2 separate regions of the Homo sapiens genome follow, and region 1 is linked to region 2. The links come from fine-mapping of genetic effects on gene expression. A gene starts in region 2. The other region holds a variant in brackets. All regions are shown on one strand. Distances are from middle to middle. Region 1 has its middle 27 kb from the start of LAS1L. Region 2 holds the start of LAS1L (LAS1 like ribosome biogenesis factor).

The links.
Region 1: its variant is fine-mapped to the expression of LAS1L in lung (TOPMed, PIP 0.91).

Annotation. Positions count from the first base shown.
Region 1 is chrX:65,558,906-65,564,286 of GRCh38, reverse strand. No RefSeq gene overlaps it. Among named protein-coding and RNA genes, the nearest start is that of LAS1L, 27 kb to the right of the region's middle. The variant G/A (reference allele first, on the strand shown) is at 3,298.
Region 2 is chrX:65,532,627-65,537,951 of GRCh38, reverse strand. LAS1L (LAS1 like ribosome biogenesis factor) reads left to right here and starts at 3,165. Exons shown (of 14, transcript NM_031206.7): 1 at 3,165-3,472; 2 at 4,217-4,342; 3 at 5,322-5,325. The coding sequence starts at 3,237. RefSeq lists an enhancer at 2,891-3,070.

The DNA.
Region 1 (5,381 bases), 26 kb before region 2:
ACTGGTAAGCCATATACGGAAAAATGAAACTGGACCCCTTCTTTACACCTTATACAAAAATTAACTCAAGATGGATTAAAGACTTAAATGTAAGACCTAAAACCATAAAAACCCTAGAAGAAATCCAAGGCAATACCATTCAGGACACAGGCATGGACAAAAACTTCATGACTAAAACATCAAAAGCAATGGCAACAAAAGCCAAAATTGACAAATGGGATGTAATTAAACTAAAGAGCTTCTGCACAGCAAAAGAAACTATCATCAGAGTGAACAGGCAACCTACAGAATGGGAGAAAATTTTTGCAATCTATCCATCTGACAAAGGCTAATATCCAGAATCTACAAAGAACTTAAACAAATTTACAAGAAAAAAAACAAACAACCCCAACAAAAAGTGGGCGAAGGATATGAACAGACATTTCTCAAAAGAAGACATTTATTTTTATTTTATTTTATTTTATTTATTTATTTTTTGAGATGGAGTGTCACTCTGTCACCCAGGCTGGAATGCAGTGGTGCAATCTTGGCTCACTGCAACCTCCACCCACCCAGGGTTCAAGTGATTCTCCTACCTCAGCCTCCCAAGTAGTGGGGATTAGAGGTGCCTGCCACCATGCCTGGCTAATTTTTGTATTTTTAGTAGAGACGCGGTTTCAGCATCTTGGCCAGGCTGGTCTTGAACTCCTGACCTCGTGATCCACCCACCTCAGGCTCCCAAAGTGCTGGGATTACAGGCGTGAGCCACCACACCCAGCAAAAGAAGACATTTATACAGCCAACAAACATGAAAAAAAAGGGTCATCATCACTGGTCATTAGAGAAATGTAAATCAAAATCACAATGAGATATCATCTTATGCCAGTTAGAAAGGGGATCATTAAAATGTCAGGAAACAACAGATGCTGGAGAGGATGTGGAGAAATAGGAATGCTTTTACACTGCTGGTGGGAGTGCAAGTTAGTTCAAACATTGTGGAAGACAGTGTGGCGATTCCTCAAAGATCTAGAAACAGAAATACCATTTGACCCAGCAATCCCATTACTGAGTATATACCAAGAGGTTTATGAATCATTCTACTATAAAGACACATGCACATGTATGTTTATTGTGGCACTGTTCACAATAGCAAAGACTTGGAACCAACCCAAATGTCCATCAATGATAGACTAGATAAAGAAAATGTGGCACACATACACCATGGAATACTATGCAGCCATAAAAAAGGATGAGTTCAAGTCCTTTGCAGGGACATGGATGAAGCTGGAAACCATCATTCTTACCAAACTAACACAAGAACATAAAACCAAACACCTCACGTTCTCACTCATAAGTGGGAGTTGAACAATGAGAACACATGGACACAGGGTGGGGAACATCACACACTGGGGCCTGTCAGGGGGTAGGGGGCTAGAGGAGGGATAGCACTAGGAGAGATACCTAATGTAGATGACAGGTTGATGGGTGCAGCAAACCACCATGGCACATGTATACCTATGTAACAAACCTGCAAGTTCTGCACATATACTCCAGAACTTAAAGTATAAGAAGAAGAAGAAAATTAAAAAAGAAGAAAGAGTATGAACATGGCCAGCCATGGTGACACACGCCTGTAATTCCAGCACTTTGGGAGGCCGAGGCGAGCGGATCACCTGAGGTCAGGAGTTCAAGACCAGCCTGGCCAACATGGTGAAACCCCATCTCTATTAAAAATAAAAAAAAATTAGCCAGACATGGTGGTGCACACCTGTAATCCTAGCTACTGGGAGGCTGAGGCAGGAGAATCACTTGAAGCTGGGAGGCGGAGGTCGCAGTGAATTGAGATCACGTCACTGCACTCCAGCCTGGGCGACAAAGAAAGACTCCATCTCAAAAAAACAAAACAAAACAAAACAAAACAAATGTGAACATGAACAGGTTTTGTTGGATAAAATGCCCACTACTCATAGGAAGGGTTGTTGTGAACAGTATCCTTTTGATCCTTTCCTGGCCAGGCCCTGGTCCTTGTTTTCGCCTAGGTCAAGACTCAAATCCCAGCCTTCAAGCCTACAACTTGAACCAGCCTCTGACAGATGGATAAGATGCTTCAGCTCAGAGTGTATGTGTAGGGGAAAGGCGTGTACAGGCAAGGGAGGAATATCCTCCTGAAGACTAGGAAGATGGATATCAATCTTACTATTTTCTCTATTTATTTATTTATTTATTTATTTATTTATTTATTTAGAGATGGACTTTCGCTTTTGTTGCCCAGGCTGGAGTGCAATGGCACGATCTCAGCTCACCGAAACTGCCGCCTTCCGGATTCAAGTGATTCTCCTGCCTCAGCCTCCCAAGTAGCTGGGATTACAGGAATGCACCACCATGCCTGGATAATTTTGTATTTTTAGTAGAGACGAGGTTTCTCCATGTTGGTCAGGCTGGTCTCGAACTCCCGACCTCAGGTGATCCGCCCGCCTCAGCCTCCCAAAATGCTGGGTTTACAGGCATGAGCCACCGTGCCCGGCATATTAATATTACTTTTAAAAAATAGAGATAAGGTCTAATTGTGTTGCCCAGGCTGATCTCAAATTCCTGAACTCAAGCAATCCTCCTGCCTTGTCCAAACTGCTGGGATTACAGGCATGCGCTACTGTGCCATTTCTATTTTCTCAAACATTTACCAGAGAAATTCTTCTCTATGCCTAGTTGAAATTGGAATTAGATTGTGATTAATCCCAGTCCATGCCCCCTGAATATCTGTGTTCCAAGGCGATGGAACATAGATGTGCCCTATCAACCATGTAGCCTTTCTTTGGGTGATTAAAGTTGGATCCCAAAGAGGCCAGCTTCACTGCCACTTCTGCCAGGATCCTTCACTCAGCCTTCTGTTCCTCGTTTTGTTTAATTTTCCCCCAGGAGACATGAACCTCAGCTTAGATTAGGAAAATCTATGAAAAAGCTAGGTGTTTGTTTGTTTCCCACAAAAGAAATTCTTTTTATTTTATTTTATTTTATTTTATTTTATTTTATTTTATTTTATTTTTTGAGATGGAGTTTTGCTCTTGTCGCCTAGGCTGGAGTGCAGTGGTGTGATGTAAGCTCACTGAGACCTCTGCCTCCTGGGTTCAAGCGATTCTCCAGCCTCAGCCTCCTGAGTAGCTGGGATTGCAGGTGCCCATCACCACACCTGGCTAATTTTTGTGTTTTTAGTAGAGACGGGGTTTTGCCATCTTGGCCAGGCTGGTCTTCAACTCCTAACCTCAGGTGATCCAGCCCCCTCGGCCTCCCAAAGTGCTGGGATTACAGGTGTGAGCCACC[G/A]CACCCAGACAAAATGACTTAAAGATTTTTTTTTTTTGAGATGAAGTTTCACTCTTGTTGCCTGAAGGCTGGAGTACAATAGCATGATTTCAGCTCACTGCAACCTCTCCCTCCTGGGTTCAAGCAATATTCCTGCCTCAGCCTCCTGAGTAGCTGGGATTACAGGCATGCTCCACCACGCCTGGCTAATTTTGTATTTTTAGTAGAGACGGGGTTTCACCATGTTGGTCAGGCTGGTCTCCAACTCCTGACCTCAGGTGACCCACCTGCCTCAGCCTCCCAAAGTGCTGGGATTACAGGCATGAGCCACCGTGCCTGGTGATAAACTATTTTAGAAAAGCTTCAGGTGTATCCTGAGATTGATGGAATTCTATGCTTATTGTCAGAAGCAACTTTTTAAAATTGATAGTTAACAACAATGTATTGTATATTTCAGGAGCAACTCTTTGAAAGTGGCTAGTTCTAAAGAGAATTAAGGAGGAAGAATTAATTTTCTAGAAGGTCTAGCAAAGGAAGTTAAAAAGTTAATTAAGGCAGCAGTCTGACTCAAAGATAGGTTTCAGAGAGAAGCTGAAAGAATTCAGTCTTAGGGGCTGATAGTTACGGATTTGCAAGGAAGTTTCTGGGCCTTGGCACCTTCAACGAAAATTTCTCATGCAGTCCCCACAAATTACTGATGTTAATAAAAGCATCAACTTCTTTTCTTTTCTTTCTTTTTTTTTTTTTTTTTTGAGACAGGGTCTTGCTCTATTGCTCAGGCTGGATGGAGTGCAGTGGAGCAATCATAGCTCACTGCAGCCTCAAAATCCTGGGCTTAAGCAGTCCTCCCACCTCAGCCTACTGAATAGCTAGGACTGCAGGTGTGCACCACCACACCTGGCTATTTTTTATTTTATTTTATTTTTGTAGAGACAAGTTTTCCATATGTTGCCCGGGCTGGTCTAGAACTCCTGGGCTCAAGCAAACCTCCTGCCTCAGCCTCCTAAGTTGCTGGGATGACAGGCATGAGCCACTGCATCTGGCTAAAACATCAATTTATTAAACGGTCTTCATAGATTGTTTTATGCCAGGGAAATTTAAAAACTGATTTTTTAGTCATATTAAGGAATTCTTTAATATGTAACAAGAGCAAATATATATATATATATATATATATATATATATATATATATATATATATATTTTTTTTTTTTTTTTAAAGATTCCTTATCTTGGCCGGTCGGGGTGGCTCAAGCCTGTAATCCCAGCACTTTGGGAAGCTAAGGCAGGTGGAACACTTGAGGTCAGGAGTTCGAGACCAGCCTGGCCAACATGGTGAAACTCCTTCTCTACTAAGAATACAAAAATTAGCTGGGTGTGGTGGTGGGTGCCTGTAATCCCAGCTGCTCGAGAGGCTGAGGCAGGGGAATCGCTCGAACCAGGGAGGCAGAGGTTTCAGTGAGCTGAGATCATGCCACTGCACTCCAGCCTGGGCAACAGAGCAAGACTCTGTCTCAAAGAAAAAAAAATGTTGATCCTGTGGCTGGCACCAAATCTCTCCAGATCCCCAGGGTTTCAAGGACACTCCTCTCCTCTGAGATATCCTTTTGTGGAAATATTTGAAAAGCACTAGTCTGAGGGAAATAAGCATATTTAGGGGTGCTAAGCTTGAAATGTTAACTATAAAATAGGGAAAATTCCAGATGGATCTAAGATTTAAATGCTAAGAAAGAAAGAGACTAATGAATGTATAAGAAGATTGTATAACCTTTAAGTGAAGAAACTCTAAATGTCATACAAAATCCAAAAGCCATACAAGAAAATATTGATGCATTTCACATAATATTTAAAACTTTTGCATCACAAAAATATATATGACAAAGTCAAAACACTAACAACAAAGTGGTATCAGATTTTATAATACATAAAACAAGTAAGAGAGGGGCTACTTTTCTCAATAACAAAAAGATCATATAAATCAGTCAGATTAAGATGAATAACAATACAAAATGGGGAAAGGGCATGAACAGTAAGTAGACAGTAAGAAAGATGAATTACTGATAAAGATGCTCATCATTGCTCATAAAGAAAAATTAAAATTAAAG
Region 2 (5,325 bases):
AGAAAAGTTAAGTAACTTGCTCAAGGTTTCAAATAGTAAGTGGTGAAGACACAATTCAAGCCCAAGCTACCTGAGTGCAGGTACTGAGGTTCAGATGACTCTGTGAATACTGTTGCCATGTATTGAATGATATAGGAGGAGGGACAGATTTTGGGGGAAAGTATTTAAGATTTAGACAGGTTGATATTGGGTTGCCTGCGGGATCACATGAGTGCAGCAGACAGTTGATTAAATGTGTCTGGAGTCCCACAGAAAACTCAGCTAGAGACTTGAAGAACATCAACATATAGGTGTTTGCTTAGCCGGGGCCACAGGACTGCTCTAGGTGAACTAGATACACAAAAGTGGACGTTGGGGTGAAGTGAGGGGGAGGGAAATGGTGAAATAATGAAGGGGAAGCAGTAGCTTGAAGATACATTTGATTAACTTCAGGATTTCACAGACAATGCCTTGGACTTGGAGATTTTATTTAATTCGTGCCCACTGGCACTGCTAGGAGTGTCCTACGTCACCACAAGCCTAGGGATTCTTAGGATTCTTGAGCATGTGCCAGGACAGATCCATATTCCCTGTGGTAAGCTGAAACAATTGTCCCCCAAAAGATACTCACATCCTAATCCCTACAACCTATGAATGTTACTTTATGTGGTTAAAAGAAAAAGAAAAAAGAAAGAAAAACATTGGACTTCATTGTAATTAAAGATCTTGAGATGTGGAAATTAGCCTGCATTATCTGAGTGGACTCTGCCACCACATGTATCCTTTTAAAATGGAGGCTGGGGGAGACTTTACAAACACAGAGGGGAAGATGGAGCAGAGAGAGATTTGAAGATGCTGGTCTTGAAGTTTGGAATAATGTGCTCCAAGCCAAGGAATGCTAGCAGCCACTAGAAAAGACAAGGAGTGTATTCTTCCCTAGAGCAGCTGGAGGAATCATGAACCTACCAGTACCTTGATTTCAGCTCAGTGATACTGTTATCAAACTTTTGGCCTCCAGAACTACGAGAAAATAAATGTCTGTTGTTTTAAACCACCAAGTTTGTGGTAATTTGCTATAGCAACAACAGGAAACTAACGCAGTGCTTCTTCAAAATTACCACTATTTGACACACTTCGTCCACTAATTCCTAATTCTCAATAGGTCTCAGGCCCCATTTGCCACATATTAGACATAATGCTCTTGTTACATGCTTTGGTCATGTTTTCTTAGAACACACGGAATAGAGAGAACTTCAGCTTTATGTGGATGGAATGGGGATAAATAGGGGTCTTTGCCTGAAAAGGACTATGCAAAATTTTTAGCCTATAAACCCCAAAATGTGTGTGAATGATTGCCGCAGATCTGGCAGCTCCTCTGACTGGCCTGTATCTTGAGGAGTCATAGAAACCACTCCCCAGACTTCTTTGCCAGCACACTGTCATGATCCTGAAGGAAAAAGGGTATCTGGTTTCAGGCAGACACCTGGCCAACTGGTTGGCATGGCTACTTGGGACAGAGTAACTGTCAGTCAAGAACCATAGGCAGGCCGGGCACGGTGGCTCATGCCTGTAATCCTAGCACTTTGGGAGGCCTGGGCTGGTGGATCACTTGAGGTCAGGAGTTCCAGACCAGCCTGGCCAACATGGTGAAACCCTGTCTCTACTAACAATACAAAAATTAGCCAAGCATAGTGGCAGGCGCCTGTAATCCCAGCTACTTGGAAGGCTGAGGCAAGAGAATCACTTGAACCCTGGAGGTAGAGGTTGCAGTGAGCCGAGAATTGTGCCACTGCACTCCAGCCTGGGCGACTGGGCCAGACGCCATGTCAAAAAAAAAAAGAAAAAGAAAAAAAGAAAAATAAAATAACTATAGGCAGACTATATCTTAGGAAAAGTTGGCTGGAGAAAGAAGCACATATAGAGGATGAATTGGGATTTGTTGCTGTGAAGCGTAAAAGTGCCACTCACAGCAATGCTGTTAAGATCGTTAGCAACAGTTCTCTCTCTCTCTCTCTCAAGTGTTACATTGGAAAATAACTTCTGCAAGAAGGATTGGGACATAGTCCTAAACATATTTCAGTCAACTCGTAAAATCGGAGGAACTTCATAATACCGCTTTTCTCCCAGAACTCCAAAATACCAAGGAATTTTGCAGAAAAACTAAGTATACCTTGGTGGATGTTGAAACCAACATAGCAGTGGAATGTTGGCAGAGTAAAATTCTACAATTTTCTGCTATGACAGAGAACCTAGAGACCAGTCTACAACTCTCACTGTACAGATGGGAAAACTGAGACTAGTCTAAGTCCACATAGTTAGTGGCAAAATTTAGAGTAAAACTCAGGTCTCTAGGCTGGTATTTATTTATTTATTTATGTATGTATTTATTTAATTTACTTTTGAGACAGAGTCTCGATCTGTCACCCAGGGTGGAGTGCACTGGTGCGATCTTGGCTTGTTGCAGCCTCCGCCTCCCGGATTCAAGCGATTCTTGTGCCTCAGCCTCCTGAGTAACTGGGATTACAGGCATGTGCAACCATGCTTAGCTAATTTTTGTATTTTTACTAGAGACCGGGTTTCACCATTTTGGCCAGGCTGGTCTGGAACTCCTGACCTCAAGTGATCCGCCCGCCTGGGCCTCCCAATGTGCTGGGATTACAGGCGTGAGCCACCACGCCTGGCCAGGCTGGTACTAATTTAAAAGGCAGGGCCCCTGGTTACCTGCCACAAAAGCAGATTTTTTCAACCCAACTGTAACTGTTTCGATATGAGATATTTCCTCTGTAGCCCTGCTTCAGTGTCCAGTGTTTTACTAGGTTAGGTCCTGATTCACGGCAATAAAAATATACTTAAAATCGCATTTTCAGTTCACTGGATGACTACAATCAAGCTGCCACCCGCCGAGGGGAGCAAAATAAAATTCCTCTTGCAGTGAAGACATACCGCTTCCGGTCTGGTACAGAAGCCGGTTAGCAACCAGGAAATTGGCGGAACCTAGAGGCTGAACTCTTGCCCCTGGAGGGTTTGCTTTGTGAAAAGAACACTTCCGGCCGGTGAGTTTTTAACCCCGCATGTCATTAGGTCGGCGCCCAATTCTGACGTTCCGATTGGCCATGCTGACGCTGGAAGGCGGGCTTGCGTATGGGGTCACGCTCTCCTATTGGCTGCTGGTGCGGTGGCGGTTCGGAGTGAGGGTAGCACGCTGAGCTGAAGGCTGTGCGGAGCGGCGCGGCACAGAGCCTGTTGTTGAGCTCAGTATGTCGTGGGAATCCGGGGCCGGGCCAGGTCTAGGTTCCCAGGGGATGGATCTCGTGTGGAGTGCGTGGTACGGAAAGTGCGTTAAAGGGAAAGGGTCGTTGCCACTCTCGGCCCACGGCATCGTGGTCGCCTGGCTCAGCAGGGCCGAGTGGGACCAGGTGACGGTTTATCTGTTCTGTGACGACCATAAGTTGCAGCGGTACGCGCTTAACCGCATCACGGTGTGGAGGAGCAGGTAAGGTGGCGGGTTCGGCCCTTTTGCCTGCGTGCTGGTGGCGCTGCACCTCTTCCTTTGTCGAGTTTCTATAAGGCCCTGTTCTCCAGTCTTCCCCTAAGTCGCCTAAAGTTGTCCCTCTCCCAAATGCCTGGGGGAACGCGGCAGCCATCTCTTGCGCTAATCCCGTTAGCGGAATGGAAAGTAAGGGGTTGTGCCTCAACAATTCTCTTGTTATATCTGTGAGGTTTACCCATTACCTCCAAAAAGTGACTTTCTCCCAACTTGGAGAGGATGCCGGAGGGACTAGTGAGGCCTGAGCCAGGGCTTAAGGAGTAGATTAGTACCCTAGGGTAGATTTCCGATTCCAATGGGGAGGAAGTCTTGCCTGCAAGACAGTGTTTGAGTGGGGCGCCTCAGTCCAGTTGGTAAGATTGAGTTGGGAGCCGACTTACAAGGGATAAGGGGCTCCTCTAGCTCAATGAGTTGATTTGGGGGTGAAAGAAAGGGGTGTGTCCACACAACTGTTGATGGACAGTCTACCAGTTAGGTGTCCTGTATACGGCCTAGTCAGCTCCTCATGCCCTGTATACTGTTGGATCCCACAGACATTACCGTGTCTCCTCCCACCTTCTTGTTTTGTGTCTGTTCATGCTCTCTTGAACCAGAATATGATGGGTGTAGCCTGCAACAACCTAGGTTCTGAGGTGGAGGGTGGACCAGTGTAAGGGCTCTTTATGATGGTGCTGGACTGTGACCCTTTAGGTCAGGCAACGAACTCCCTCTGGCAGTGGCTTCTACTGCTGACCTGATACGCTGTAAGCTCTTGGATGTAACTGGTGGCTTGGGCACTGATGAACTTAGACTGCTCTATGGCATGGCATTGGTCAGGTAAGACCTGCATGGGGTAGGGGTGGAGGTTGGCTTTGGGGACTGGAGGCAGGGGAGGCATGTGATAAGCAAAACTTGGCTTCAGGTGTTACCTGAAGCAAAACCCTGCGTGTACCTCACTGTGGATCAGCCTGTGATTATTGCTTGACTTATCAGCTTTTGGTACCCTCGTCAACGCATTCCTCTTTTTCTTCCTTTTTCCTGAAAGCCTTCTCTTCCATTTTTCTTTCTATCTTGGAATGTGGAGGAAGGGATTCAGACCAGGTGATCTCTGTGGGTCTCTTGGTGGTCTGATATTTTTTCTTACCTTTGAATTCCTCACCCAGAGGAACTTGTCTGAATGGCTCAGGGTCCTCGCCTGTGATTTAATGTGGACTTTCCAACCCTGTCCCTGTCTATTCCTAGCACTACCCTTTTCCCCTTCTCTCCCTCATGAACACTGAAAGATTGCTGAGTTATGGAAGTGGAGACATGGGCTGGGAATTCCTGACTTACAAAGTGACTCATAATGGTTCTAGCTGTATACACGTCGGAAAAAAAGGTTGCTACTGAGTTTTCATATCTGTCAAAGTCTTTGCTTATCTATTTCCCCTTGTCTGCCTTGAGATCCTCCCTTTCTCTTCTTATTTTCTCCATTGGTTAGCTGTGCTCCCCATTATCTGATGTAGTCCTTTGCAGCATTTATAACATATTATGTTCTAGCCTAATATGTTACATTGTATCATTATTATTTATCCTAGACCGAACTGTTCAAGGCTAGAGCAGTGTCTTATTCATCTGTATGGCTTCATTATAGGGCAGACTCTCATTAAATGTTGGAATGGATGGAACTGTCCCTGCTCTGGCTGACACACCAGCTGTAGGAATAGGACAGGACAGTCGGTGGAAAAGTGGAAATGCAGGGTTTCAGTAACTCAGCAAAGTGTTTGGAATAAAATGGTTCCTTGGGCTGTGCCACTTATTTCTCCCTCAACTCCAGGTTT